Linked DNA regions of Homo sapiens. The protein of the gene in region 4 interacts with the protein of the main gene of each other region in a pairwise test. Each region holds a gene or a part of one and is shown on either strand. Other genes may lie near its edges.

Region 1 (4,208 bases), on a different chromosome or scaffold from region 4:
CCCACCCCTCAAGCTGGGAGCCCAGGATCAGGGTTAAATCCCGAGTCCAGGGATCCAGAGGAAAGGAAGAACAGGACTCGGGACTATGTCACCTTGTTGTTCAGCTGGGTTGCTCCTTGCAGAGATGCGCCTGTGTAACGCGAGCAGAACTCAAAGAGCCCGGGAAACACTGGGCTGCAGGGAAGAGGAACAAGTTGGAACCCTCCTGCCTCTGTCTGGGCCCTTCCCATATCTCCCTCCCCATCCTAGATTCCTCCAATCTCCATTTTTCAAGAACCTTCTCTCCCTCTCCTACACACGTGGGCTATCTGCAAATTTATTCAACAAATATTTTGGACCAAACCATGTACCAAGCCCTGTGCAAGGCACTGGATGGGAAGTAAAGAAGCACTTAACTGTCAGGGAGTTTGTATCCTAGCTGCGGAAAGAAGCAAGCAGCTTCCAGGTACTCAAGTACAATGTAAAAAGGAAATCAGTTGAAAGAAAACATGAGCTCTGTTTTTCTTAGTCTTCTCAGTGTAACAAATTTTAGCATAATGTTCAATAATATTTTTCAGTCACATATTTTAAAGAAAGAACTGTATACCTACATATGTGAAACAGTGATGAGATAACCCACGAAAAGCCTGTAGCACAGTATACAGTATCCGCTCAGCCTTTAATAAATGTCAGCTATAATTATTACCATTGTTATTCTTTATAAAAAGTAAAGGCTTGAAGCCAGACACAAAAGCCTACTTACTGTATGACTCCATTTATGTAACATTCTGGAAAAGGTAAAATACAAGGACAGACATCTTATCAGTAGTTGGCTGGATCTAGGTTGCAGAGAAGTTATTAACTACAAAAGGGTGAGTGACCTTTGTTGGGTAGTGGAAATTTCCTGTACCTTGATACCTTTTTTTTTTTTTTTTTTGTAGAGACAGGGTCTCACTATGTTGCCCAAGCTGGTCTCAAACTCCTGGGCCTAAGTGATCCTCCCGCCTTGGCCTCCCAAATTGTTGGGACTACAGGTGTGAGCCATCGGCGCTGGCCCTATACCTTGATATATTCTATCAAACCTCTCAGAACTCTTACACCTAAAAAAGGTTAATTTTACTGTATGCAAGTTATACCTATATAAACCTGACTTTTTAAAAAGGAAAGGCTTAGGCAATCCCTAGTTTTAGGTCTCAAAAAAAAAAAATAGTGCAGCTGATACATTTGACCATGTGAAAAACAGAACTGTAGGGGTTTTTTGTTTGTTTGTTTTTTGAGATGGGGTCTTGCTCTGTCGCCCAGGCTGGGGTGCAATGGTGCGATCTCGGCTCACTGCAGCCTCCGCCTCCCGGGTTCAAGCAAGAATTGTAGGGTTTTATAGTTTCTCAAAAGGCTTGGAAAGAATTAGTGATTAATACCAGAAAACTAAGCAAATGAAAAAATAATGCAATTGTCAGCTCCAGGAAAAACAAAAAGCTTTAGAAGAAAATAGATTAAATCACACTACACTATTTGGCTTGATAGTAAATGAATCTTTCAGAGTTATAATAATGTAAACACAGAATACTGATTTATTTTTAAATTACTATGAAGCTGAAAGGGGAAAGGAAGCCAATGTGATGGTGTAAGAAGACTAAATGCTCATATCCCATACTAAAAGCTTAACAGATAATGCCTAAAATTGACAGACGAAGAAATAGCAATGAGAGACAATACAGGAGGGGAGTATGATTACAAGCACCGATTCTGGAGCTAGACTACCTAGGTTCTTTAACACCTACTAATGATAGTGAGGTTGTACAAACTGTTTAACCTTTCTGTGCTTAAGTGTCCTCATCGGTAAAAGGAAACAATAATAGACCCTGCTTCATAGGGGTTGTTGAGATTAAATAAGCTAATGGCTGTAAAGCACTTAGAACAGTACCTAGTATATAACAGGTATTACCTAAGGATTACAGATTAGTAATAACAGTCAATTAATATTATTATTTAGAAATCCAAAGGTAAATACCAGAAGACATAGGGGAAAGGAGCTGAAAGTGGCTGTCACTGGGCAGAGGGATTTATGGGTGAAAAGGAGAGGTCTGGAATTTTTTTTTTTTTTTTTTTTTAAGACAGAGTCTCACTCTGTTGCCCAGGCTGGAGTGCAGTGGTGCAATCTCAGGTCACTGCAACCTCCAACTCCCGGGTTCAAGCAATTCTCCTGCCTCAGCCTCCTGGAGTAGCTGGGACTACAGGCACGTGCCACCACACATGACTAATTTTTGTATTTTTAGTAGAGATGGGGTTTCACCATGTTGGCCAGGCTGGTCTTGAACTCCTGACCTTAGGTGGTCCACCCGCCTCGGCCTCCGAAAGTGCTGGGATTACAGGCGTGAGCCACTGCGCCCGGCTTGGGACTACTTTTTTATTTTTTTCATTTAAAGGCCTATAGTACAATTTGGCTACTTATGTTAGAATACTTTGAAACCAATCAGAAATTCATTAAACAGAAGAAAAATTCCTGATTCTCATCGGAAATACAGATAAGCACAACTGTAACTTGTTTGACAGGAAGACTGATGCAGCATAAATAGCCCAGAGATAGTATTCTAATTAGCATTCCCTAATCGCACAAAGAGCATCTACGGGACCCCAGTGTGGCGTAAGGGCTGACCCTGTATTCACAGAGCTAGAAAGTGAGCTCAGAAATAACAGCAGGAATACTAACAAAAAAACAAGAAACCTCCCCAAACAGCATGTGACTGAACACCAAATGAGCAGTGCAGTGTGTGCAAGACAGAGCTCTATGGGCTGGTGTGGTCAAGAAAGGTTTCATGGAGATGGTGTGAAGGCTGAGAAGGCCTTGAAGAGGTTGAATAGAGAACTAAGGGCATTCCAGGAAGGCATCCTGTGCAGCTGAGGTGTAGGGATAAAGTTGGAAAGGTGCCAATGCCAGCCTAATGAGTTGGCCTCTATCCTACAGCCCTGGCTGCTTCTGTCATTAAGATCTTTCAGGAAAACAGATTAGTGGTTTAAAAACCCGGGATCTGGATCATGCCCCCTCCAATGACCAGTTATGTGACTACGGCTAAGTTACCTAGATATTCCCAAACCTCAATTTACTTATATATAACATCAGAAAAAGGTCTATTATAATACATCTAAGGATTGGTATGAGAATTAAGTGGATTTACCAGCAACCCTTGGCATAATACCTAGCAGAGTAAGCACTCAGTAAATGGTAGCTATCATAAGAAATTCTACAGGATCAACAACCTGGTTTCTTCAAGAAATAAATTCAAGGGGGTGACAGAAAAGCTACAAATTAAAAGTCTTAAGAGACATATCAACCAAATGCACTGTATAGACCTTGTTTAGATCTGGATTTAAATTAGCTACAAAATAATTATGAGACAACTGCAGAAATTTGAATATTGATCCCATATTTGATGACATTAAGGAATCACTGTTAACTTTTTAGGTTTGATAATGATACTATGTTTTTTTAAAAGAGTATCATTTAGAGATACATAATAAAATATTTATGGATAAAAGGATATAACATCTAGGATCTGCTTTAAAACAATCTAACATGAGGGAGTATAGATGAAGTAAGAGTGGCCACTTGCTCAGCTGGGTGCGATGGCTCACGTCTGTAATCCCAGCACTTTTGGAGGCTGAGGCTGGTGGATCACCTGAGGTCAGGAGTTCAAAACCAGCCTGACCAACATAGTGAAACCCCATCTCTACTAAACATACAAAAATTAGCCAGGCATGGTGGCAGGCGCCTGTAATCCCAGCTACTCGGGAGTCTGAGGCATGAGAATCGCTTGAACCCAGGAGGCAGAGGTTGCAGTGAGCCAAGACTGCACCACTGCACTCCAGCCTGGGCTACAGAGTGAGACTCTGTCTCAAAAAAAAAAAAAAAAAAAAAAAGAGTGGCCATTTGCTCATAAGCGTTGAAGCTAGGTGATGGACGTATGGGAGGTCACTGCACTACTTCACTTTCAGAAATTTTTGAAATTTTCCCTAATAAAAAGTTTAAAAACAAAAGTAAGTAGAATTGAGCAACTGGTAGCTGTGATGGTTACTATTTTTTCATGGATATAGAGTAGAGTGTGGCTTATCTTTGTTGTCCACTCTCTTCCCCAGAGGGTCTAACCCTGACTCTTCTATGGATGATACAAGCTCAATGTAAACCTAATGATATCAAACCACTCCTTCGTTGTTTTTTTTGTTTTTTTAAC
Region 2 (3,463 bases), on a different chromosome or scaffold from region 4:
CACGACAAAAGCTGGCAAGAGTAGGTGATTACTATAGGTCATCTCCCCTCCCTTTTACTGGGGGCAGATGTGGTGCACTCACTCCTGCCCACAGACCTCCTTAGTCTGAATGAAATCCACAGCCTGGGCAAAGGACTAGACTCTCTGGGGAGCCCTTTCTCCCTCCTGGGTGGCAAAGCTCCCTCTTGGGTCCTCCCCCAACCTCTTACTAACCTGCCTGAGCCCAAACTGTGGCCTTCTGCCTTACACAGTCAGTTTGGAACCAGACCTGGGGCTGTGGCCTCAGGTCATCTTCCCCAACTGCAACTTTTAGAGTGCTCAGGGTCCCAAAAGTTGGGAAAGAAACTGTCCACTAGCAGAGGTGGCAACAGACCCATCTTTCTGAGCCCTGTTCAGGGCTCTTTCCATTCTACATGCTAGAAACTGGAGAGAAAGGAGTCACCCAAGCCACACACACTGGTCTCATAGTCCTTAAGGTGCCAAGTTTCCATCCTTAAGGCTCCCTGTGGCTGGGGCCGTCTCACCCAGCACTCCAGGGTCCAGCCCTGATTCTGGACCCAGGTGTTTCCTTGCCCTGGCTCTTGGCTCAGTGCCCCAGCTGGGTCAAAGAAGGGGTGAGGGATGCAGGCCTGCACTGAGAACAGCATTTTGTAGTGCAGGTGGACATTCGGTAACAAGAGGAAACCCCTTTGTTGTATCTTAGGGTGTAAAGAGAAGAGTCTAGCTCTGTCCTGCCCATCGTGCCCCGGCCATGACCCGCACCTTGCTGCAGCTCTGTGTAGCTAATGGAGCCCGAGCGGTCCCGGTCATACTGCTGGAAGAGGTTCTTCCACTGCTGGATGAATTTCCACAGGGCTGAGAAGCCGTAGACATCGATGCGGCCTGACTTGGTCTTGTCAAACATGTCTGAAGGTGAGGAGGGAAAGGAGGGGAGGAAGGCTTCAAGACTGAAGGCCAAGGGTCCCCCTCAGGACCCATTGAGGCAGCCCTTCTCTCCAGGCTGGAGTAGGCGACTTCACAGAACCAAGCCCTGAGGCCCAGATGCCTGCACCTGAGACACCCACATCAAGCGTTGCACCGTCCTCCTACTCTGGACACCTTTAGCCCCACCCCATCCAGAACTGCATTTTCTCTGCAGGCTTGGCACCTGACCCCTCCCTGCTGTTTCCTACAGGGGAGGGAGTACCATTCTACAGAAGAGGAAACTAAGTTAACCTGTAACTAGGCAGGGTCTAGAACTTAAGAAAGATCTCAGGAAAAGAGCTCTCAGTCTAGGGGATCTCACCCTGAACCTAGCTTCCTCCCCACAGTCCTCCCTGGTCAATGAATTTCTCTTCAGAATGTCCACCCACCCACCTACCCACCTACTGTCCACTATCAGGTGGCTCTGCCCCAGCTCAGGCCCAAGGGCAAGGCGGAGACTCACTTATCATCATGAGGCAGGTCTCATCATTGAATGAAGACCAATTGCAGTTGACCAGGGCCTGCTTTAGCTCCTTCATGGAGATATAGCCACTGTGATCTGAGTCCACCGACTGGAACCAGGAGTAGGCCTCAGGATCCACATTGGGAGGGGCGCCACCTGGAGGAAGGGGTGTGAAGGCCATCAACAGAAATGCCAGGAAGGGCCAGCCTCAGTAACTTCCTGGCTACAGGTTTCTCCTACACACGAAGCTTCACAAATTCACCTTCCCTGTCTTCCATCAAGCTGACATTCTTACTCTGATGGAAGAGGACCTTCAGTGAAGATTCATGAGTATTTGCAGTTGATTTCTATTCCATGAGTCCTCTGGAGTTCTCGTATAGTGTTCCAGACACTACTCTTAATTGATTTTATGTTTTTAAGGAACGGGGACCTGTACCCCTGTAGCATTTCAAGAATTCTCTGGAAAAGGTAAACTGCGAGATGGGGGAATGGGTGGTAGATAAAAGTGTAGAAGTGGCCAGGCACAGTGGCTCACGACTGTAATCCCAGCACTTTGGGAAGCCGAGGCAGGCGGATCACCTGAGGTCGGGAGTTTGAGACCAGCTTGACCAACATGGAGAAACCCCGTCTCTACTAAAAATAGAAAATTAGCCGGGCATGGTGGCACATGCCTGTAATCCCAGCTACTGGGGAGGCTGAAGCAGGAGAATCGCTTGAACCCGGGAGGTGGAGGTTGTGGTGAGCCAAGATCACGCCATTGCACTCCAGCCTGGGCAACAAAAGCGAAACTCCATCTCAAAAAAAAAAAAACAAAAAAACCCAAAAAAAACAGTGTAGAAGCTGGTAAGTCTGTCTACCTTAGGACACTGAGTTAACTGGCCACAATCGGGGTCCCTTCACACAAAGACAGCCATGGGCAGTTGTGGAGGACAGAAACCACTGCCTAGTACCAAAGCCCAGTAAGGACAGAGGGAAAAAGGTATGCCTGACTTAGGGATTAGTCTGACTTCCTTGGAAAAATCCGGGCAGGTTCTAGCCATCTTCCTAAAACATCGGTGTCATAGGGGAGCAAGGGCCACAGCCCCAGGGCAGGAGAGATTCTGTGACATGTTTGAACTGTGTAGTTTGTATAGAAGGGCTCAGGCTTTGGAATCAAAGCAGACCTGGATTCAAACCCTGGATCTGATCCTTACTAGCTTGTGTGACTTTAGGCAAAATGTACAATTTTCTGAGTAATGATTTTCACATTTCTAAAATGAACCCATTTCCCCAGAATTGTTGTGATGATTAAATGAGATAACAGCAAAATAAAATCCTCAGCAAAGAGCCTGGAATGTGTGTCTTCTGAGATATTTTCACAGAGAAACGGATATTTAAACTGAGTTTCTCCCCATGGTAGGCTACATTATCGTCTCCTGGCTAATAATCTCTAGCCAGGAGACACAGTCTGCACACCCACAGACATTGTACTAATATGGTACAATGGTTTAAAAGGCCAGTTCAATAATCTATTATTAGATTACTTGCTAATCTCCCCTTCCCTATAAGAGCATTGTACATCCTCTCCCACTGCCTGGTGGCTTGCAGAGGGGCATCCTTTCCCATCCTACTGATGTCAGTCTTGATCAGGGGGTGCTCTGGCCAAAAGAATGCAAGTGGGCAAGACATACAGTACTTCAGAGAAGCTTTAAGAGGCATTGTGCATTCTTGCTAGCTCTCCTGCTCCTTCTCTCTGCCACAAAGATAACATATCCCAAACAGGAGCTGCTCCTTCAGCATGTATCCCTGAATGAAAAAGACACAGGGAACAGAAACTCAACAGCCAGCTAACAGCTGCTGACATGTAAGCAAAAGAAAGTAAGCATGAGCAAGCAATACAAATAAATGCTTGCAACAAAACTAGCTGACAAACTTATCATTTTGAGGATACACACTGAAGCTGGAAGCAAGATGCTAAGGTGCCAGAGACCAGGCTGCCTGCACACCCACAGGAAGGACAAAGGCTGGCCATGGATAACTCAGAACCACGTCAGAGGT
Region 3 (4,208 bases), on a different chromosome or scaffold from region 4:
ACCTGTGGGCTGGCCTAGAATGCAAATGAGCAGGAGCCTGGACACAACTTTAAGGCAACAAAGGAAGCTGTTGTCTCTCTGATAGGATCAGTGGAATCACAGAGTCGGAGCCTGTCAGGTGGTCAGGGGTGCGAACAGGGAAGCAGGTGGAAAAGAGGAAGTGTTCACTGTAGAGTGGCCAAGGCACAGGTGCCTGTGTCAGAGATTCCTGAGTGACCTCCCATGCCTCAGTGTCTTCAACTGCAGATCGGGAGTAGCTCTTAGAGTTGTTGAGAAGTAAATGAGGATTAAATGAAGAGTGAAACACCTGTCATATAGCAAGTGTTCAACAAATACTACCTCTCACTGTTTGCTGACACCTCTCATTAAAGTGTATTTTGTTTTAATTAAAATTCAAATGAAACTTATTTCAGACACCAGGCTGTTTCTCCCATTTTGACTTCATTTTCTACCATCTTACAGGATCTTCATATGCTCTAAAATGCACTTTTGATTCCTTTCCCACATATAAAGGAGCCCCTGAAGTTAGCGAATGGTCCCCTTTACGGCTGAATCCCAGTCTGGGTCCTTTGTTGATGGTTCCTGCACTTGGCAGGCGACTCCCCTCTGGATAGTATCTACAGGTACCTTTTGTAGGGCAGGAGCTGTTTGTGCAGAGCCCACAAGGCAGCCACACATTTCATCTCTGTGGCAGAGCCAGAAAATACCCTGTGTTTTGTCCTAACCTAAGAAGTGAAACGTATTATAGCACAGCAGAAACATTATCTTGGCTGGGCAAAGTCCTCTCCTGACCTTTCAGAATTAAAGAATGCTTTAGAAACTCTGGCTTGCTAGAAGTCTTTCCTGCCAAGAAAACCACTTGAGGTTAAGGGTGTGAGAGTGGGAGTCAGTGGGGGCAAAACTCCCTCTCGGAGGCTCAGAGCAGGTTCCATACTTTAGCTGGGGTAAGATTTCAGGAACACCACTAGGGCCTTGTTTTAGTTCAGCCTGAATGACTCCAGGGCTATGGTTGCAAACTGGGCTGAACTCAGACTCTTGGGCCTGTATTTCCCCTTGAAGACCTGAGCACAGAGAAGATCAAACAAAACCAAACAGAGAAGGATGCTTTCTCATGCCTCCTACAATGTAAACCACAGGGCACTTCACCCAGCTAGGCACGGGTCCAACGCAGGGAGGTATAGGCCCTGCCGGCCTCAGCCAAGCTCTGCTTCCCTTGGAGAACTTGCATATGAAGCAGGTCTCACAGTTGAGGGAGAAAACAATCCAAAAAGTTTTCCACTGCTTCAACAGTACAAGACGAAGAGAATTATCCAGAAGGTGCTCCCTGGCACATCCCAGGCACAGAGCTGATCTAGGGTCTGATGACTTACTCATGCTAGTGCCTTGGATGAAGTTTCTAGAAACCGAATCTGCAAGATTCTTGGAGGCTAGGGAGCATCCTTCCTCATCTCCTCTGCAAATGTCTGCATTATTTATTTCTAGGCCTACCTTAGAGTCTAGAAGGCTGCTGGGGCAAAGGGCTTGGTCGAGAATCGTTCTCTCTTATTTAAACGTGAGGAAGGACCTCAGGGCTCGGCCAAGGGACCGCTTGTCCGGGGTTGCCCACCTCCTCGGGGTAAGGTGCAGAGCGGCACAGGCGTCCTGCTCCCCAGTGCTCTGCTCAGGGCCCCGCTCCTCTTCCCAAGGCCCCGTCCGCCCCACCAGAGGCCCCGCAGTACCTTGTGGGTGAGGGAGTGCTGCTTGAGGTGGTGCGGCTGCACAAACTCCATGCCACACTCTGAGCAGATGTAGGGCCGGATGTCCTTGTGCTTCATCATGTGGTTCTGCAGCTGGCTCGGGTACTGGAAGGTCTTGTCGCACTCGGAGCAGTTGTACTGGATGGGGCCCCGGTGCGTGGTGAGGTGTCTCTTCAGCTGGGCCAAGGTGGGGAAGTCGAGGCCGCACTCCACACAGATGTTCTCGCGCCCACTGGCGTGCTTGGCTTCGTGGGCCTTGAGCTCGCTGGGGTAGGCAAAGCCGCGGCCGCACACGCGGCAGTTGTGCGGCTTCACCTCGCTGTGCTGCATCATGTGGCGCTTCAGGTGGCTGGTCTGGGTGAAGGCCTTGTGGCACACCTGGCACTTGTGGGGCCGCGTGCCCTGGTGGGTCAGCATGTGGGTATGCAGGTGGCTGAGCTGCTTGAAGAGCTTCCCGCAGTGCGTGCACGCGTGCGGCTTGATCCCACTGTGGCCCAGGATGTGGGTGACCAGGTTGTACTTGGAGGTGTAGGACTTCTCGCAGGTGGGGCACTGCCAGCGCTTCTGCGAGCCGCCCACGTCCACGTAGTAGCTGTCATCGATCTGCACGTTCACGTCCACCCTCTCCACCTTCTGCTTGGTCTCCTCGCTCTCCTGGGGCTCGGCTTTCCGGGGCAGCAGAGGTTCCGGGGGCTGCTTGGGCAGGAAGGTGTGCCGGCTGAAGGGGAAGGGCGAGGACGAGGGCACGAAGAAGGGGAACATGAGGCCCGGGTGGACTTTGGGGTAGTAGGGGTAGGGCGTGGGCAGGAATGGAGTGGGCGTTGGCTGGGGCCACACGGCGCTGGGCTTAATGGGTTCCTGCTTGACGGGCTTGCCCCCAAAGTGTTCCAGGCTGCGGTAGAATTGGAAGCCCACGTTGCACAGGTCGATCATCTGAGAGTCATACTTGGGGCGCGGGGGCTGCGGGAACAGCAAAGGGAGGTTGGGAAGGCCGTGGTTTTTGTTCTCCTCTGAGTGGAGGGCGAGGGTGACTTCTTCTGCAGGGTGGTTATAGGGCATCTTTGTGGGCATGCTCTTCCGTTTCCTAGACCCTGCTCCTTCGAAGACCCCGGGGAACCCATCTAGGTCTCCTGGGGGAGGTTCATACCGAAACTGGGAAAATGGCCCTCGGAGAGCTTCCGGGAAGGGGTGTCTTTGGGGAGCCTTTCCCCGAGAAGCCACTGGCTGCAGGCAGTGGGGAAAGGAGGGGGTCTTCTTCACAGCCAAGTCGAAATGCACATCCTCGTCTTTGATCATCTTCATTTCCTTCTGCATCCTTGGCAATTTTCCTTTAAAGAGAAAGAAACTTGTGTGTTTTGGTTTGGTTTTGTTTAAAATTCTCTTTTTCCTTAAGGATTATGGCTATTTATCAGTACTAATTTATGAAGAGTAGTACTTGCTTAATATGGACCCTCATTTATCCTAGGGCTGTTCAAAATATCGCTTTTCTTTCTCCTTGCAAACCCAGTTATCAATATGGATAGCACTGGCCTCTTGGGGTGACCCTAGGGCTGAATCAAATTGGGCTCCAGTGTAAATCCAGCCACAAAACCACAAGGGGTGATGGTAGCAAGGGAAGTGGACTAGTTTGGGAAGAAACCTGAGAACTCATCTGGCCATTGTCCCCATTTAAGATCAGGGTACCAAAGTCCAGATAAATGAAATGACATTCTCAAGTTACATAGGTACTCACTGAAGGAGTGAGCACTAGACCCATTCTGCTGCAGCTTTTCAATCTGAGTTGTAATTACATCTACTAATGGTGATTGGAAAGTGACTTTTAGGGTCTTTTCTTTGTGTAAGGAAACCAATTTTCACTGCTACTCCCTTGCTTGGGCCTTTGCTGCTGGAAAATGAGGATATTCAAAGCCTCATAGGAGAAGGGATGTTAATGCTTAACTCAGATCTAATCGTTTCTGAGTATCCACTCTGAGTAAGGTGTGCTACTAAGGCATAGGGAGTGAATGACATAAACATGATTTTAAAAAGCATATTGAGTAGCTCAATGTTATAAAGTCATCCTGGCAATGTACACATTCCACTCTTAAACCTGAAGCAAGCTGGAATGAAATATTCCTTTATTATGTGAAATAAAGCCGCACATGGGTCTCTCCTTTCAGACAGGTGTCAAAGTAAGGGGCAGGCTTGGTGACTCCTGTGGTGCCTGACATGTCCCCTGCTGACACAGCCAGTTACTGTGTCCTGAGACATAGGCATGTCTGAAAGAGCTGGTGGTGGGACTAGAGTCTGAACAAGGGGCAGTGTTTTTCACGTCTCCTTGCCAGTTTTCTTTCTTTCTTTCTTTCTTTCTTTCTTTCTTTCTTTCTTTTTTTTTTTTTTTGGAGATGGAGTCTGGCTCTGTTGCCCAGGCTGAAGTGCAGTCCAGTGGCACAATCTTAGCTTACTGCAATATCCGCCTCCTGGGTTCAAGTG
Region 4 (4,208 bases):
AACCTCCACCTCCAAGGTTCAAGCAATTCTCTGCTTCAGCCTCCCAAGTAGCTGAGATTATAGGCACCCACCACCCCACCCGGCTAATTTTTTGTATTTTTAGTAGAGACAGGGTTTCACCATCTTGGCCAGGCTGGTCTTGAACTCCTGACCTAGTGATTCACCTGCCTCCGCCTCCCAAAGTGCTGGGATTATAGGCGTGAGCCACCGTGCCCGGCTAAGGTCTTATTTCATATCCTTGGAGTATTTGCAGTTCTTAAAAGATCTCAAGCCTTTCTTCTTCCCTCCCTGTTTTTTTTTTTTTTGAGACGGAGTTTTGCTCTTGTTGCCCAGGCTGGAGTGCAATGGCGCGATCTTGGCTCACTGCAACCTCCGCCTCCCAGGTTCAAGCGATTCTCCTGCCTCAGCCCCCTGAGTAGCTGAGATTACAGGCGCCCACCACCACGCCCAGCTAATTTTTTGTATTTTAGTAGAGACAGGGTTTCATTATGTTGGCCAGGCTGGTCTCAAACTCCTGACCTCAGGCAATCCACCCGCCTCAGCCTCCCCAAAGTGCTGGGATTACAGGCATGAGCCACCATGCCTGGCCCTCAAGTCTTTCTTCTTAAATCTGTATTCTTAGCTATTTCATACATTGTGTGGTTATTTTAAGTAGTTTTTTTTCCATTTAAATTTCTAACTGGTTAATACTAGAATAGAGAAACACTACGACTTTTTGTACGCTATTTTGAATCCCATCCCCTTACCAAATTCTATTAATTCTAAGAACATTTTGCTGGGATCATTCAGCTTTTCTAAGAGCATAATCACATTATTTGCACATAAAGAGAGTTTGCATTATACCAATAATATTGCTAGATTTTTTGTTTTTGTTTTTGAGACGGAGTCTCGCTTTGTCGCCCAGGCTGGAGTGCAGTGGCGCGATATCAGCTCACTGCGAGCTCCGCCTCCCAGGTTCATGCCATTCTCTTTTTTTTTTTTTTTGAGACGGAGTCTCGCTCTGTTGCCCAGGCTGGAGTGCAGTGGCGGGATCTCGGCTCACTGCAAGCTCCGCCTCCCGAGTTCACGCCATTCTCCTGCCTCAGCCTCCCAAGTAGCTGGGACTACAGGCGCCCACCACCACGCCCGGCTAATTTTTTGTGTTTTTAGTAGAGACGGGGTTTCACCGTTTTAGCCGGGATGGTCTCGATCTCCTGACCTCGTGATCCGCCCGCCTCGGCCTCCCAAAGTGCTGGGACTACAGGCGTGAGCCACCGCGCCCGGCCTTTCATGCCATTCTCTTGCCTCAGCCTCCCGAGTAGCTGGGACTACAGGCGCCCGCCACCACGTCTGGCTAATTTTTTGTATTTTTAGTAGAGATGGGGTTTCACCGTGTTAGCCAGGATGGTCTCGATCTCCTGACCTCGTGATCCACCCACCTCGGCCTCCCAAAGTGCTGGGATTACAGGCATGAGCCACCGCGCCCGGCAACTGTTGCTAGATTTCTTAGGGAACCATCCCTCCATTCCAGAAACAAACCTTACTTATAATGTATCATACATAGGGATCACTACTAGATTGATAGTTACTAATATTTTATTTAGCACTTCATTTTATTTATTTTTTTGAGACAGAGTCTTGCTCTGTTGCCCCGGCTGGAATGCAGTGGCACGATCACAGCTCATTGCAGCCTCAACCTCCTGGGCTCAGGTGATCCTCCCACCTCAGCCTCCCAAGTAGCTGGGACCACAGGCCCCAGTACCTGGCTAATTTTTTTATTTTTAATTTTATAGACACAGTGTCTCACTATATTGCCCAGGCTGGTCTTGAACTCCTGGGCTCAAATGATCCTCCCACCTCAGTCTCCCCAAGTGCTGGGATTACAGGTATAAGCCACTATATCCAGCCAACTTTCTTTCTTTTTTTTCTTTTTTTTTTTTTGAGGAGTCTCACTCTGTTGCCCAGGCTGGAGTGCAGTGGCGCGATCTCGGCTCACTGCAACCTCCGCCTCCTGGGTTCACACCATTCTCCTGCCTCAGCCTCTCGAGTAGCTGGGACTACAGGCGCCCGTCACTACGCCCGGCTAATTTTTTGTATTTTTAGTAGAGATGGGGTTTCACCGTGTTAGCCAGGATGGTCTTGATCTCCTGACCTCGTGATCCGCCTGCCTCGGCCTCCCAAAGTGCTGGGATTACAGGCATGAGCCACCGCGCCCGGCCAATCCAGCCCACTTTCATATCTTTAATAATAGTAAACTAATCTACAGTTTCATTTTGGTATCATCTTTATCAGAATTTTGGAATTAAGGTTTAAGAAGCTTCCTAAATATTGAGAGGACAGACTCTAGCATAGCAGTCTGAGGCGTTCCCTGGAACACTCCCTAGTGAAACTGATGAAAAGTATTAAAAAACAACCATTTAAAGTCTCTGAAAATGTTCCTAAGGACATACAGCCCTATGAGAAAGATTTAATGAGGAAAAGCTACTAAAACTCAGTTCCATGAAGAGTTGTGATGTCTGAAACACAACCTATTGCATCCCTGCCTCCCCCAGCTTAGTGTGATGGAAACTCCACTCCAGACAGTACAGCCAAGAAGACAGGTCTGCCCGCATCTACCCAGATCATCTCAGTTAAGGGGTATGATATCTTCCCAGGAGGAACAGAATGTCAGCATCTATTTTTCTGAGTTGGAGTTTCACTCTTGGTTGCCCAGGCTGGAGTGCAATGGCGTGATATCGGCTCACTGCAACCTCTACTTCCCGGGTTCAAACAATTCTCCTGCCTCAGCCTTCCGAGTAGCTGGGATTACAAGTGCCCGCCACCAAGCCCGGCTAATTTTTGTATTTTTAGTAAAGATGGGGTTTCACGATGTTGTCCAGGCTGGTCTTGAACTCCTGACCTCAGGTGATCTGCCCACCTTGGCCTCCCAAAGTGCTGGGATTACAGGCGTGAGCCACTGTACCCAGCCGGATGTCAGTATCTCTCATCCCGCCCCCAGCTACCTGCTGATGAGGCTAAGTTCTAGACAAGCATAGCTGAGAGAGAACGGTTCCTATCTTCTACCCAGCCACACGCACGTGGAATGGAGGCTTGACCCTGGGCATGGCACACTAAGAATATAAGGGCTCACATACCCATGGCTTGTTCATAAAGCAGAGGTCCCATGCCAGGAAAGGCAAACCAAGACCGGAGGCTACAGCCTACTGTACCTCCTCCCATGTCTCTCCTAAAGTGGCAGAGTCACTCAGAGAGAGGTACTCCATTGTCTCCATCCCCAGAGCCTTGGCTCAGAGATTCTGCCCACAGTGAGAGCACGGCCTTAAATCAGTAAACTCCCAATCTCAAAGGAACTGACTGACTTCACTGGCAAGAGTGTTGGGAAGTGCAAGACTAGGGCCTCTCTCAAAAACAATGGAGACTAGGGAGGAAAAAAATTAAAAGGACATTGATAGCTTTTTTTTTTCTTTCTGAATATTTATTGGAGTTAAACACTGATAGCTTTGTCCTTTTTTTTTTCCCCCACCACACAGCCATAAAAAAGAAGGACCGGTAGATTTGACAGTGATATTAGCTAACCCATAGGCTAACTAGGTTACCAAAGAGGACAAGGACCAGTGAAATAGCTAAGAACAGACTCCCTGGGTTCAGAATAAATCTCAAACAACCACCTCAAAAACCATCCCTCTTGGGCCTGGCATAGTGGCTGACGCCTGTAATCCCAGCACCTTGTGAGGCTGAGGTGGGTGGCTCATAAGATCAAGAGTTCGAGACCAGCCTGGCCAACATGGTGAAACCCCGTCTCTACTAACAATACAAAAATTAGCCGGGCGTGGTAGCACATGCCTGTAATCCCAGCTACTCGGGAGGCTGAGGCAGGAGAATTGCTTGAACCTGAGAGGTGGAGGTTGCAGCAAGCCAAGATCGCGCCACTGCATTCCAGCCTGGGCAACAGAGCAAGACTCTTGTCTGGGAGAGGGGGCGGGGAGGGGAGGGGAAAAAAATCCCTATAAAGGAGCCCAAATTTAATTGGATCAGATTGGGCAGCAATCTATGCCCCAAAACATTGTTGAAAACAATAAAGCAATCAGCCAGCAATTGGTAGAGTTTAACAGCTGAGTATGGTCTGGGAAAAAGAGCGAGCCCATGGCTTCCTCCCTCCAAGACACACCACCAGTTTCATACTGTGTGAGAATGAAAGAGACCTAACTAAAAAAATCTAGCAAGTCACT
Region 5 (4,208 bases), on a different chromosome or scaffold from region 4:
TTCTTTCTTTCTTTCTTTCTTTCTTTCTTTCTTTCTTTCTTTCTTTCTTTCTTTCTTTCTCTCTTTCTCTCTGTCTCTCTCTCTTTCTCTCTTTCTTTTTTATTTATTTTTTTGAGATGGAGTCTCACTCTGTCGCCCAGGTTGGAGTGCAATGGTGCAATCTCGGCTCACTGCAACCTCTGCCTCCCAGGTTCAAGCGATTCTCCTGCCTCGGCCTCCCGAGTAGCTGGGATTATAGGTGCGCGCCACCATGCCCGGCTAATTTTTGTATTTTTTGTGGAGACAGGGTTTCACCATGTTGGTCAGGCTGGTCTCAAACTCCTGACCTCATGATCCGCCTGCCATAGCCTCCCAAAGTGCTGGGATTACAGGCGTGAGCCACCATGCCTGGTCACTTGTTCATTTTTCTTACAGATAGGTCTACTCTGTACAAAAAGAAATCATTTCAGAGATACAGGCTCACAAACCCCTATGAGTTAAGAAGGGGCAAGCAGCCTATCGCTGGCTCATAACCCAATAACCTTTTAGTCCTGCTGGAAAAAGTATGTCACTACATTGGCCTGCTGATGGATCAGCTCCTTAATTACGTGGAAAAGGTGGCATAGTGGACGTAAAACAGTTTGTCACTTGTTTAGTCCTCTAGTTAGGTAATATTGGATGTGTGTTTCAATTTTAGAGCAGGTACACTAAGATTATTAGTACTCATTGCAATAAAATTCTTAACTGGAAAATCGCTACTAATTCTTAATTGGATCTTTTAAGTTTTTTACTTAACCTAAGCTTTCTCAGTCTATTTTTCCCTTTGAGTATTCCATCTTAAAGCATGTTGTGTATTTAATGTGGCAGCTATGTTGCAAGTCTTATTTTGGTCTTAATACTCAGTTTCCAGATGTAATATATTACAAGTAGAAAAAGAAATCTACTTTCCAGAATGAACTTTGTTAAATTTTACAGATATTGTTTGGTTTATGAGGTTGTTCATAACAGATGCAAATTTGAGGAATTATGTGTAGAATACCAGAAAGACTTTAGTGTTTGGCAATTTATTTAGATAAATTAAGATAAATCCATAGTACAAGACATAAACCAAGGTGGTCCTCTCTGTGTGATGAAGTAGCATTTTTTTCTTTTCTTTTTTAAACTTTCCTGTATTTAAAATCTTTTACACAAAACACATTCAATTGTAATTAGGAAAAAAAACCCAAATTTTTAAGTGTCCATAGTCAAAAGTATGCCTGGATTTGTCTTAGTTTTTCTCTGAATTTCTTAAGAAATCTTTGTATTAGCTTTTTTATCTACATTAAGATATATTTTGTTGGCTGGGCATGGTGGCTCACTCCTGTAATCCCAGCACTTTGGGAGACTCAGGCAGGTGGATCACTTGAGGTTAGGAGTTTGAGACCAGCCAGGCCAACATGGTGAAACCCCGTCTCTACTAAAAATACAAAAATTAGCCGGGCGTGGTGGTGCACGCCTGTAGTCCCAGCTACCTGGGAGGCTGAGGCAGGAGAATCGCTTGAACCTGGGAGGCGGAGGTTGCAGTGAGCTGAGATCATGCCACTGCACTCCAGCCTGGGTGACAGAGTGAGACTCCATCTCAAAAAAATACATATATATTTTGTTGATTCTGATGCATTTTAGACTAGGAAATTTTATATTTTACCCTGCTCTCCTAAAATGAAACAGTGAAGACATCATTGCAAACAACCTTACTCAGCCAAAAACAAAACAACAAAAACCCTCCACCCTCTGTATGTTTTACTATAACTTTAATTCTGTTCTTTGTTCATGTAATTGCTTTGGTTGGGAATCTAAGATAAACTCACTTTATGTTTAATATCCTATTACAATCAGATGTTTTAATGAATTAGTATTTGTTGTATGTGTGTGTGTGTTATAAATTATTTTTAATTAGAAATTGTAGTTATCTTGAGACCAGTTTAAAATTTTAACAATTAGAATAAGATGAGAAAATGATATCCAGGGTACAGAATAATAATGCCATTGGGGTATACAAGATCACATTGATTTGTTCTTTAAATGTCTTTCAGAGTGGTATTTTAGTGGCCTAAGAACAATTGTTGCTTTCCTAAATAAGGGTTAATCTTACTTTCATAGGATCAGGTTTAATTGGAGAAATTTTGTTGAAAACAGAGGAAGTTAAAATGAAATAAAAGGTGGCCGGGCGCAGTGGCTCACGCTTGTAATTCCAGCACTTTGGGAGGCCAAGGCGGACAGATCACCTGAGGTCAGGAGTTCAAGACCAGCCTGACCAATACGATGAAACCCTGTCTCTACTAAGAATACAAAAATTAGCCAGGCATGGTGGCATGCGCCTGTAATCCCAGCTACTTGGGAGGCTGAGACAGGAAAATCGTTTGAATCTGGGAGGCGGAAGTTGCAGTGAGCTGAGATCATGCCATTGCACTCCAGCCTGGGCAACAAGAGCAAAACTCCATCTAAAAAAAAAAGAAAGAAAGAAAGAAAGAAAGAAAAGGTGATGAATTAGATGATAACACATTAGAGCCAGAGCTAAAGGAAAAATTGCTGATAACGTATTTTTTTCTTGTGCAGATACGTAGGTAACCTTTCCAGAGATGTGACAGAAGTCCTTATACTTCAGTTGTTCAGTCAGATTGGACCCTGTAAAAGCTGTAAAATGATAACAGAGGTAAGATCTTCCCAGTTCCATGTGCTGACAATTAGCATGATGGGTTGATTAGCATGATTTTAAAATTTCATTGTAAGCCTCAAGTTATTCTGGTGGAGAGATTTGTGTTGTGTTGACTTATTACTTTGATTTGGCTGACAAACTAGGCTTAGAATGGAGTTTTATTTAAGAGGGCAAAGTTTCCGTGCTGTTAAGCTCAAACGGTCATTCTTCATGGTGTGGTTATCTTGAAGTGATTCTGCTTTCAGAACATTATTAGAGCTCATTTCAGAATGGTGAAAAATTGGAAAGTATTTCATACAATTCCAATAAGAATGTTAACGATTTAGACAGCATGTGTTCATGTGCGAGAACACGAAGTTATTATGTGTGTAGTGTGCAGCACCGTTCGTCTCGTGTGTCTGTAGCAAATACTTACCTTTTTATACTTTCCTGCTAAGACTGTAGCAGCACCCAATTAGTCATGTTTTAGGCTTTTCTTCCTTGTGTTTTTGTTCATTGATCAGCTTTCTTTTTTTTTTTTGGACTATTTCCTATGTACTAGATACTGCAGTAAGTGCTAGAGATACACTGGTGAATAAAGATAGTTCCTTGGCCCAGAGAATTTTACAGTTTAGTAGGGAGACAAAGGAGTTAGCAGGCACTTAGGAAGTAGGATAATAAATGCTCTAGAAGCAGACAACTTAAAGTGCTGTGGGAGCAAATGTGTATCCAGTGCAGCCTTAGGTCAGTGAGCGGCTTCTTGGAGGACTCACTGCCTAGGCGGAAACCTTGAAAGGATAGTAGTACATACTGGCTAGAAAGGAATTGAGGGAAGAAGGGATTCCAAATAAAGGGAACTTTGATCCAGGTTGGTAGGGAGAGCAGGAGTGCTTGAGACAGAGAGGGAAAAATAGAACCCGTAGCATGGTTGTAGTTAAAATGGAATTAGTCGTAAGAGATGGCAGGAGTTTATGGAAAGGGCTAGAAACTGTGCTAAAGAGTTTGTTTTATCCTGAAACGGAGAACTGTTAAAAACCTTTAAAGTGCATTGGCCTTTTGATTGTCTTTCCCAAGTAATGACAATCATCATTTTGTTCTGGTGTATTATATTTTTCCTTCCTGCCTTTAATTATTTATTTGTGCTTTCATCGATCAAAAATTTCCTTTGCACTAGGCACTATACAAGGTACTGGAGATATAATGGAGAGACAGCCAAATGAGTTTCCCAAGCAAATAGGGATGTAAGCCATGAAGAGAATAAAACAGAGTTCTGTGATGATTGGAGGGTTGGTGCTATATAGGCTAGGTGATGAGAGATGTCACCTCTTTGAGCTGAGATGAATAACAAGATGGTGCTATCTATGGTAAGAGCTGGAGGCAGAGGAAACAGCAAATACAAGTCTTGAGTTGGTAATGAACTTGTGTTTGTGGAATCAAAGACCGATGGCTAGAGTCTGGTGAGGGATGGAGGGGAGTTAAGGGAAATGAGTCTAACAGCAGGATTCAGAATCACAGGACATTATGGTCCATGACATAGTTTAGGTTTTACTCTGAT
Region 6 (4,208 bases), on a different chromosome or scaffold from region 4:
CCTCTGCCCTCTGAGTCCCTCAACTCCCACTAAGGCTGAGGCAAATATCTGTCACCACTTCATATAAACCCTAGGCAAACTATTTCAAATGACTTTAAAGCTCTAAAAAGGTAGATTCTGGGGAGAGCCAACAGGTGGAAGCAGAAAATGGCACTGTGTGAGGCTTCATTGCTTAATTTTCCATTAACTATTTAAGATTCAAAGCTTCCAGCCTGAAGGTCAGCTCCAGTCTGTGCAAGGGAGGGCAGCTAAAAGGCAGATCTTTTAGGTAATCACCTTTTCTTGACTACAAAAACCAGAAGGCTGGCCGGGCACGGTGGCCCATGCTTGTAATCCCAGCACTTTGGGAGGCCAAGGCAGGCGGATCACCAGATGTCAGGAGTATGAGACCAGCCTGACCAACATGGAGAAACCCCATCTCTACTAAAAATACAAAATTAGCTGGATGTGGTGGGACACACCTGTAATCCTAACTACTCGGGAGGCTGAGGCAGGAGAATCGCTTGAACTCGGGAGGAGGAAGTTGCGGTGAGCCGAGATCGTGCCACTGCTCTCCAGCCTGGGCAACAAGAGCAAAACTTCATCTCACCAAAAAAAAAAAAAAAAAAAAAAAAAAGAGGACCAAGTTTGAAGCAACCACGGATGCTGCAAAATGAGGAAAGAAACCTGGAAATGAGAGAGTCAAAGACAGGAAGCCCTAAATTCTGTACATAAACTGGGCCCAAATCTCTGCATAACCTCACATATATGGGGTAGATTCCAAGCTAAAGAACTGAAGTGAGATTTGAGCGGCCACCCAAGACACAGAGTTTGCATTGTAAATCAAATCAGGTTACCTGCCTGCCAAAGATAAAAACACTTTTTAGAGGAATGCAAACAAACATCTAAGGTGTCCACAATGTAGCAACATTCTCACTGTACAAAAATCAACCCAAAATCTGACCCATGCTCAAAAAAGAAAAAAAAAAGATAATTATGGAGACCAACTCCAAGCAGACCAGACATTGGAATTAGCAGATAAGGATTTTAAAGTAGCTTTTTAAACCATGCTCATTAAGGAAAGCAAAGTAAGGCCATAATGAATTAAAGGATAGGAAATTAGGTAAAATAAATAGAAACTATATAAAACAAGAATCAAATGCAAATTCTGAAACTGCAAAATATGTGAAGTAGAACATTCACTGGATGGCCTTAATCACAAAATGGAGATAAGGGAGAAAAACTTGAAGTTGAAACTAGGTTAATAGAAACTATCCAATCTGAAGAACAGAGGACGGGGAGAAAAGATTGGGGAAAAGAAGTGAACAGAGCATCCGTGAAAGAAAAATTACTTGAAGAAATAATGGCCAAAATGTCTACAAATTTACTCAGAAATACAGTATAGACAATTCAAAGGCTCTGAGATTGCCCAAGCAAGTCCAGTGCCGAGAACTCTACCTACATTGTGTTCACACTAATTCTCAGGCCCAGGCTATGGAGGCTAAGTATATGCCCAGTGGTACAGCTCTGAGTAAGAGAGTCAGGTGTCTCTTTGAACAAAAAATATATATATAAAATTCAATGGGCAGTGCAAGACTCAAGCCTGCTACTAACTCTCTTGTTTCTTTCCTGACCTTTGGGGAGGATACTAAATGCCCTTTCTCTCTTAGCTCTTCCCTCCCTTACTCTCCTTGGTTTACCAAGGAGTCTTGCAAATAAGTGATAGAGTCGATGCTACCAATTCCCTGCCGTCTGCCTTTCAGCCACACCCATCAAGTCTGAACTCAATTCTATCTCCTCACTCTGTGCCTCCATTCCACTCTACCCATGGTCCCACTCCCTTTAGGATAAACGTCTAACACCATTGAAGACTCACCTCTTTCTTCTGATGCTGCTCATTTTGCCCATCTTTAGCGAGCTGGTTTAGCTAACAGAATGTCTCAAATTGGGATCCAAGTGTTTTACATGGTGACATGCCTATGGGGAAATGAGGCTGGAAGTGCAAACCTCTTATTCATAAATTGATCTCAGGTCTATCTGAAGTAAAGGCAGATTCTACACCAGAGAATTACCAAGGGCTGCAAGAAAGAGTTTCACACTAAGAATGGCTGGAAATCACAAGCATTCCCCTCATGGCACCTGCTGTAAATCCCCAAGATTTATGGTCAGTAAGAGTTGTGTGCAGTTATAATCATGCCTCACGCTGGGATGATAACCTTTCCAGAAACCAGGTGTTTTTTTGTGTCTGGGCTTAATCACCAAACCCAGCAAAGCCCTGGACCACGTGACTTTTTCATTCAGCAGGTGGGAGCCTCATGTCCAACCTCAGAAACTAAGCAGGGTCACTGTTTAGATAAAGAAGTGGGTGGGATGTTCCAGTAATAAGAGTGCTAAGAGCAGAGGGGTGACGACAATCTGCACAGACACAAGGGTGTGCAGACACTGGGCTGTGCAGACACTGGGCTGACGCATCCCTTCCCCTGTAAGCCTCTAGGGGAACACCCAGATGGTAGCTTCCCTACATTTCCTGACAGTGGCATAATTTTGTTCTCGGTCTATGAACAGTAGTGCCTATCATGGCAGGCACAGGGTTGAGAAATAATGAAATTGTGGTAGAAAAGAGAACACAGATGTCTTCTACTCATTTCCCCTTTACTTCTCTTTTTAGGGTAGGAAATAAAAAGAGATTCATATCTGCTCCTTTTCCTCCCTGTGGACAACCTTGATCCTGCCACTTTTTCTTTTTAAGGCCCTTATGTTCATTAACAGCTTATTTTGGAAATTCTTGCAGAATCTGCTTTCCTCTACTTTAGCCACATTTGATGTACATGGTATTTATTGTTACTCTGACTCCGGCAGGGGCAGAGGGGCCTTCTGGGTGATATGTTTATTGTTTTAAGTGACACAAGGCAAGGATAATTTAGGACAGGTCAGAGGGTAAGTTTTTGTTTAGCGAAGCACCATCAGGAGGAGGGAGGGTACCTGGAGTTGCATCTGGGGGCCTCAGAGCTAGGTGTTGGGGCAGGTCTTCCGCCCCAGACCAAGGGTTTGTCCCCATTCTCCTAAGCTTTGGGCAGCTAACAAAGCAACCTGCAACAACCAACCTTCAAAGCATCCCTGTCTATACTTTCAGGATAGGAAATATATCAGTGTCTGAAGCCAACTAGACATCTCACAAAGTCTTCTTCATTTCCTGCAAATTGGATATAAAGAGATAAAAAGACCCACACCTGGAGACCGAACAAGATATTTGCAAGCCACCCCTCAGTACTACTCTCACCCTTTCCTACCGATTACATGTCCCTTATACATGTGCCTAGGACTCTTACTTGGTGTTGACCAGGGTTTCCTAAAACAAAAGCAATGCTCAGAAATGGTTCACACTTCTTATTATGGTCTTTAGACTCTCAGAGACAAAGAATACTGTTTTCCCAGCAAAATGAAGCCCAAACTTTAGTGTTCATATTGTTTAATAAGTCATAGGTTGAAAAAACAGCAGCATAAACTACAATGTTTTAATACATCAGGACACACAAACACTGCACTTAAACCAAATCATTTAAGATACATGCTTAGAATAAATATAATCATCTGGCCTTAGCAATATAGCAAAACCTTGTCTCTACAAAAAGTTTAAAAATTAGTTGGGCATGGTGGTCCATGCCTGTAGTCCCAGCTACTAGGAGACTGAGGGGCAAGGATCACTTGAGCCCAGAAATTCGAGGCTGCACTGAGCGATGATCACACCATTGCACTCCAGCCATGGCTACAGAAGGAAACCTTGTTTTAAAAAAAAAATTTTTTTTAAGTGGCCTGATTCAAGTCAAGCATCAGACAAGGCCCTCAACTCCCTCTCATTCTCAAGCCCCTGTCCAGTGGTTTCCACTAAGCTCAGGAATCCTTTGGCCTCATTTCTCCCATTGTGGGTGCTCCTGCCCCATTACCCAGACTGGACTTCCCGTGGATCTAGAAGATGGCAGCATTGTGTAGAGAAGAGCACCTCCAACTCACAGTCTCAGATGTTTCCAGTCCTATTCTGGAGAAAACCTGAAGGCAGAATGAATTAGAATGGTTCTGCTTCACCTAGACCATCTGGGACCTTTACTAGCACAAAATCATGAAGCAAAAGGGAGCAATAGGAAGAAAAGTCACCAGGTCTGAGGCACCGATGTGCAAGCATTGTGCTGGAACAGTCAACATTCACCATCATCTCCACCTCACAGCAACCC
Region 7 (4,208 bases), on a different chromosome or scaffold from region 4:
GAGAATCACTTGAACCCGGGAGGTGGAGGTTGCAGTGAGCTGAGATCACACCACTGGACTCCAGCCTGGCAACAGAGCAAGACTCCATCTCAGAAAGAAAAGAAAACAAAAAAGTTGTGTTTACACTATGCTGTAGTCTATTAAGTGTGCAATAGCATTATGCCTAAAAAACAATATATCTAACTTAATTTAAAATACTTTATTACTAAAAAAAAAACCTTAATGATGATCTGAGCCTTCAGCAAGTTGTAATCTTCTTGCTGGTGGTGGGTCTTGCCTCAATATTGATGGCTTGTTGCTTCACCTTGCATTTTTATGTTATAGAGACAGCTTCTCTTCTTAAACCTCAGACTATCTCTGCCAGCTTCAAACTTTTTTTCTGCAGCTTCCTCATCTCTCTCAGCCTTCATAGAATTAAAGAAAGTTAGGATCTTGATCTTGATTAGGCTTTGGCTTGAGGGTCTGTTGTGTCTGGTTTGATCTTCTACACAAACCAGTCAAACTTTCTCCATATCGGCAATAAGGCTGATTCACTTACTTATCATTTATGTATTCACTGCAGTAGCACTTCTGATTTCCTTCATGAACTTTTCTTTTGCATTCACAGCTTGACTGTTTGTCACAAGAGGCCTAGCTTTTGGCCTATCTCAGCTTTAGTCATGCCTTCCTCATTAAGATTAATCATTTCTAGCTTTTGATTTAAAGTGAGAGATGTGAAACTCTTCCTTTCACTTGAAAATTTGTAGGCAATTGTAGGGTCATTAATTGGCCTCATTTTAATATTTTTGTGTCTCAGAGAATAGGGAGGCCCAAGGAGAGGGAGAGAGATGGGAAAATGACCAGTTTGTGGAGCAGTCAGAACACAAACATTTATCGACGAAGTTTGCTGTCTTGTATGGGCAAAGTTTGTGGCGCCCCCCGAGACATTACAATAGTAACCTCAAAGATCACTGATTACAGATCACCATAGCAGATATAATAATAATGAAAGTTTAAAATATTTAAAGTTAATAACAGTTACCAGAATGTGACACAGAGACACAAAGTGAGCACATGGTGTTGGAAGAATGGCGCTGATAGACCTATTTAACACAGGTTGCCATAAACCTTTGATTTGTAAAAAACTCAGTATTTGCAAAGCATGTTAAAGCAAAGTACAATAAAAGGGGGAATGCTTGTATCTTCTGTTCCTCTAGACTCTAAGCTAAGTACATATCTTATTGGTCTGTGCCATTGCAGGTGCCTCGAGCAAAGGCCTTATGCAACTACAGAGGGCAGAATCCCGGTGACCTAAGGTTTAATAAGGGAGATATCATCCTTCTCCGGAGACAGCTTGATGAGAATTGGTACCAGGGGGAAATCAATGGCATCAGCGGGAACTTCCCAGCCAGCTCCGTGGAAGTCATCAAGCAGCTGCCCCAGCCGCCCCCGCTCTGCAGGGCCCTCTACAACTTCGACCTACGAGGCAAGGACAAGAGTGAGAACCAGGATTGCCTGACCTTCCTCAAGGTAGGATTCTGGGTGGCCACCAGAGTCACCTGGGACCACGTAGAGACCATAGCAGAACAGAGTTCCTTGTTTAATATTTGCTGATTTTAAAAAATTGTATTTTAAATATATTATATTATTGTTAATATTTTATTCATAAAAATATATTTTGTGCATAAATTACGTATGTATATATGTAGTGCATATATATGTAATATGTGTGTACAATTCAAACTACATGCACGTGAAATCTCTAGAGAAATCTACGAATAAGTGATAGAAGTCTGTAAGCCTTTTTTATTGTAATTACAAAAGTATTCACTCATTCATTCATTCATTTATCCTGAAACCATTGTAGAAACATTTGAAAATACAGATAAGCAAAACAAGGAAAATATTACACCACAATATAGATACAATCACTGTCAACAGCTTGAATAACACATTTGATTTATTCATTCTATCACTTTTGAGCATTTACTCCTTGAAGGCCCTGGGAATAGGACGTGAATAAGTCACAGTCTCTGCTCTCCTGGCAGAGTAATGGGAAGCACCGATACATGGACAGAAAATTAGAAACAATTTGATAACATGCTATGTAAAACTACAGCCTCTACCTCTTTATCATGTATGTGGCAGGGTATTCTTGCAACCAAGTTATGGTTACCTAATTCTACTCATTTACATTCTATCTTGTTGTAAACATCTCATTCAAAACACTCCAGACACACACAATAACATAATCGTGCCTTTCTACATAAATAACCTCTTACAAGATATATTTTTCAAACATTAATTACCCTAAGATTTCTTGTGCCTCTCTTTTTCATTAGATGATTCCCCACCATTTGCAATTAATGACAGTTGTACTAAAGTCTACACTACTTTAACTATCTGTATTCAGTATTTGTTATTCCATAAACATTCACATCTCTCATAGAAACCACAGTTGGAGTTATTTTCATTCTTGACTACTCGTGATAAGTAGATCAAATGTAAGTATAAAAAGTGGCACTGCTACAATAGCTTAGGCAAGGTGTTTCGTTTTACAAAATGTTTTTATTCCACCACTACCAGAAAGGAGATTTACTTCAGGTTTTCTCAAACTAGACAACCTCTCTGCCCTCCATATTTTGAGATAATGATCTTTATTATTGCCGTGGAACCTCAGAGCGAGACTCCTAAGGAAGGTCATTCTACAGCCCAAACAGCAAAGTGTAGACCTAGACTACAGCTAGAGGAAAGTCAGTTCAATTCCACAAATATTTATTATTTACTTTGTGCCAGGCATTAGACACACAGCTGGAGGAAGACATAAGGAAGTATCATCGTCTGCCTCTCTCACCCTTTCTGGGAATTTGTAAACTGGGGCACTTACTTCACACACTCATTCATTTCTTGAGCCCATCCATGTGCCAAGCTGGCCATTGGAGATAAAGTGATGAGTCATTGTTCTTACCTACACTGAGCTGGCAATCTAGTGGAAGAAACAGACATATAAATGGGAAATTATGACAAAGAAACCAAAAGAGAGGATTTGACCCATTCTGGAAGGCTGTGAAATACACAGACTTCTAGGAAATCTCATGGTCTAAACTCAGCATATCCAAATTAAACTCAAGATCTTCCTTCCCAAAGCTGTTCTTTTCCTAGTGCTTTCTAGCTCAGTAAATTGTGTAATTTATTCAACGTCATGTATTTATTCATGCATGCATGCATTCAATAAACTTATTGGCTGACTACTAAAAGGGAGCCACTGTGTTAGGTGCTAGGGAAAACAAAGATTAACAAAACAGACATAGGCCCTGCACACATGAAGTTTATAGTCAGATAGGGTAGACCGACATTAAAGAAATAATAACCTCCTGGCACGGTGGCTCACGCCTGCAATCCCAGCACTTTGGGAGACCGCGGCAGGCGGATCACTTGAGGTCAGGAGTTTGAGACCAGCCTGGCCAACATAGCGAAACCCCGACTCTACTAAAAATACAAAAATTAGTCAGGCGTGGTTGCGCGTGCCTGTAATCCCAGCTACTCAGGAGACTGAGGCAGGAGAATCGCTTGAACCCAGGAGGCGGAGGTTGCAGTGAGCCAAGTTCGCGCCATTGCACTCCAGCCTGGGCAACAGAGCGAGACTCCATCTAAAAATTAAAAAAGAAAGAAAAGGAAGGAAGGAAGGAAGGAAGGAAGGAAGGAAGGAAGGAAGGAAGGAAGGAAGGAAGGAAGGAAGGATAACCTATAAATGCATAATTGCACATGTGTAAGAGCAGGGGCCCCCAACCCCAGGACCACCGACCAGTACCAGTCCGTGGCCTGTGAGGAAACGGGCCGCACAGCAGGAGGTGAGAGGTGGGCAAGTGAGCAAACCTTCATCTGTATTTATAGCTGCTCCCCATGGGTCGCATTACTGCCTGAGCTCCACCTTCTGTCAGATTAGTGGCAGCATTAGATTCTCATAGGAGCGTGAAACCTATTGTGAACTGCGCATGCAAGGGATCTAAATTAGGTGCTCCTTATGAGAATCTAATGCCTGATAATGTGAGGTGGAGCAGTTTTATCTTGAAACCATTCCCTATCCTCTACCCTCTATCCCCACCTCCTACCCCCTGCATCTGAGGAAAAATTGTCTTCCACAAAACCAGTCCCTGGTGCCAAAAAGGTTGGGTACCGCTGTGTAAGAGGAAGCTAAGAAAGGGTATAATGCAGTAACAGATTTAAAT

What was found.
Region 1: the proteins of AKAP8L (region 4) and HDAC3 interact in binary tests that used the Homo sapiens proteins (3 or more experiments, as listed by UniProt).
Region 2: the proteins of AKAP8L (region 4) and PEF1 interact in binary tests that used the Homo sapiens proteins (3 or more experiments, as listed by UniProt).
Region 3: the proteins of AKAP8L (region 4) and ZNF366 interact in binary tests that used the Homo sapiens proteins (3 or more experiments, as listed by UniProt).
Region 5: the proteins of AKAP8L (region 4) and TIAL1 interact in binary tests that used the Homo sapiens proteins (3 or more experiments, as listed by UniProt).
Region 6: the proteins of AKAP8L (region 4) and SAXO1 interact in binary tests that used the Homo sapiens proteins (3 or more experiments, as listed by UniProt).
Region 7: the proteins of AKAP8L (region 4) and SH3RF2 interact in binary tests that used the Homo sapiens proteins (3 or more experiments, as listed by UniProt).

Annotation. Positions count from the first base shown.
Region 1 is NC_000005.10:141,629,952-141,634,159, forward strand, and holds part of HDAC3 (histone deacetylase 3), read right to left. Parts: intron 175-4,208; coding exon 93-174; intron 1-92. UniProt on the Homo sapiens protein: Histone deacetylase that catalyzes the deacetylation of lysine residues on the N-terminal part of the core histones (H2A, H2B, H3 and H4), and some other non-histone substrates.
Region 2 is NC_000001.11:31,631,733-31,635,195, forward strand, and holds part of PEF1 (peflin), read right to left. Parts: intron 3,212-3,463; coding exon of another isoform or gene 3,114-3,211; exon of another isoform or gene 2,934-3,113; intron 2,761-2,933; exon of another isoform or gene 1,583-2,760; coding exon 1,427-1,582; exon of another isoform or gene 907-1,426; coding exon 763-906; coding exon of another isoform or gene 704-762; intron 1-703. UniProt on the Homo sapiens protein: Calcium-binding protein that acts as an adapter that bridges unrelated proteins or stabilizes weak protein-protein complexes in response to calcium.
Region 3 is NC_000005.10:72,458,447-72,462,654, forward strand, and holds part of ZNF366 (zinc finger protein 366), read right to left. Parts: intron 3,065-4,208; 5' UTR 3,051-3,064; coding exon 1,719-3,050; intron 1-1,718. UniProt on the Homo sapiens protein: Has transcriptional repression activity. Acts as a corepressor of ESR1; the function seems to involve CTBP1 and histone deacetylases.
Region 4 is NC_000019.10:15,384,012-15,388,219, forward strand, and holds part of AKAP8L (A-kinase anchor protein 8-like), read right to left. Parts: intron 1-4,208. UniProt on the Homo sapiens protein: Could play a role in constitutive transport element (CTE)-mediated gene expression by association with DHX9. Increases CTE-dependent nuclear unspliced mRNA export.
Region 5 is NC_000010.11:119,586,615-119,590,822, reverse strand, and holds part of TIAL1 (nucleolysin TIAR), read left to right. Parts: intron 1-2,574; coding exon 2,575-2,671; intron 2,672-4,208. UniProt on the Homo sapiens protein: RNA-binding protein involved in alternative pre-RNA splicing and in cytoplasmic stress granules formation. Shows a preference for uridine-rich RNAs.
Region 6 is NC_000009.12:18,945,690-18,949,897, forward strand, and holds part of SAXO1 (stabilizer of axonemal microtubules 1), read right to left. Parts: intron 2,019-4,208; exon of another isoform or gene 1,888-2,018; coding exon of another isoform or gene 1,856-1,887; intron 1-1,855. UniProt on the Homo sapiens protein: May play a role in the regulation of cilium length. Stabilizes microtubules at low temperature.
Region 7 is NC_000005.10:145,998,819-146,003,026, forward strand, and holds part of SH3RF2 (E3 ubiquitin-protein ligase SH3RF2), read left to right. Parts: intron 1-1,239; coding exon 1,240-1,509; intron 1,510-4,208. UniProt on the Homo sapiens protein: Has E3 ubiquitin-protein ligase activity. Acts as an anti-apoptotic regulator of the JNK pathway by ubiquitinating and promoting the degradation of SH3RF1, a scaffold protein that is required for pro-apoptotic JNK activation.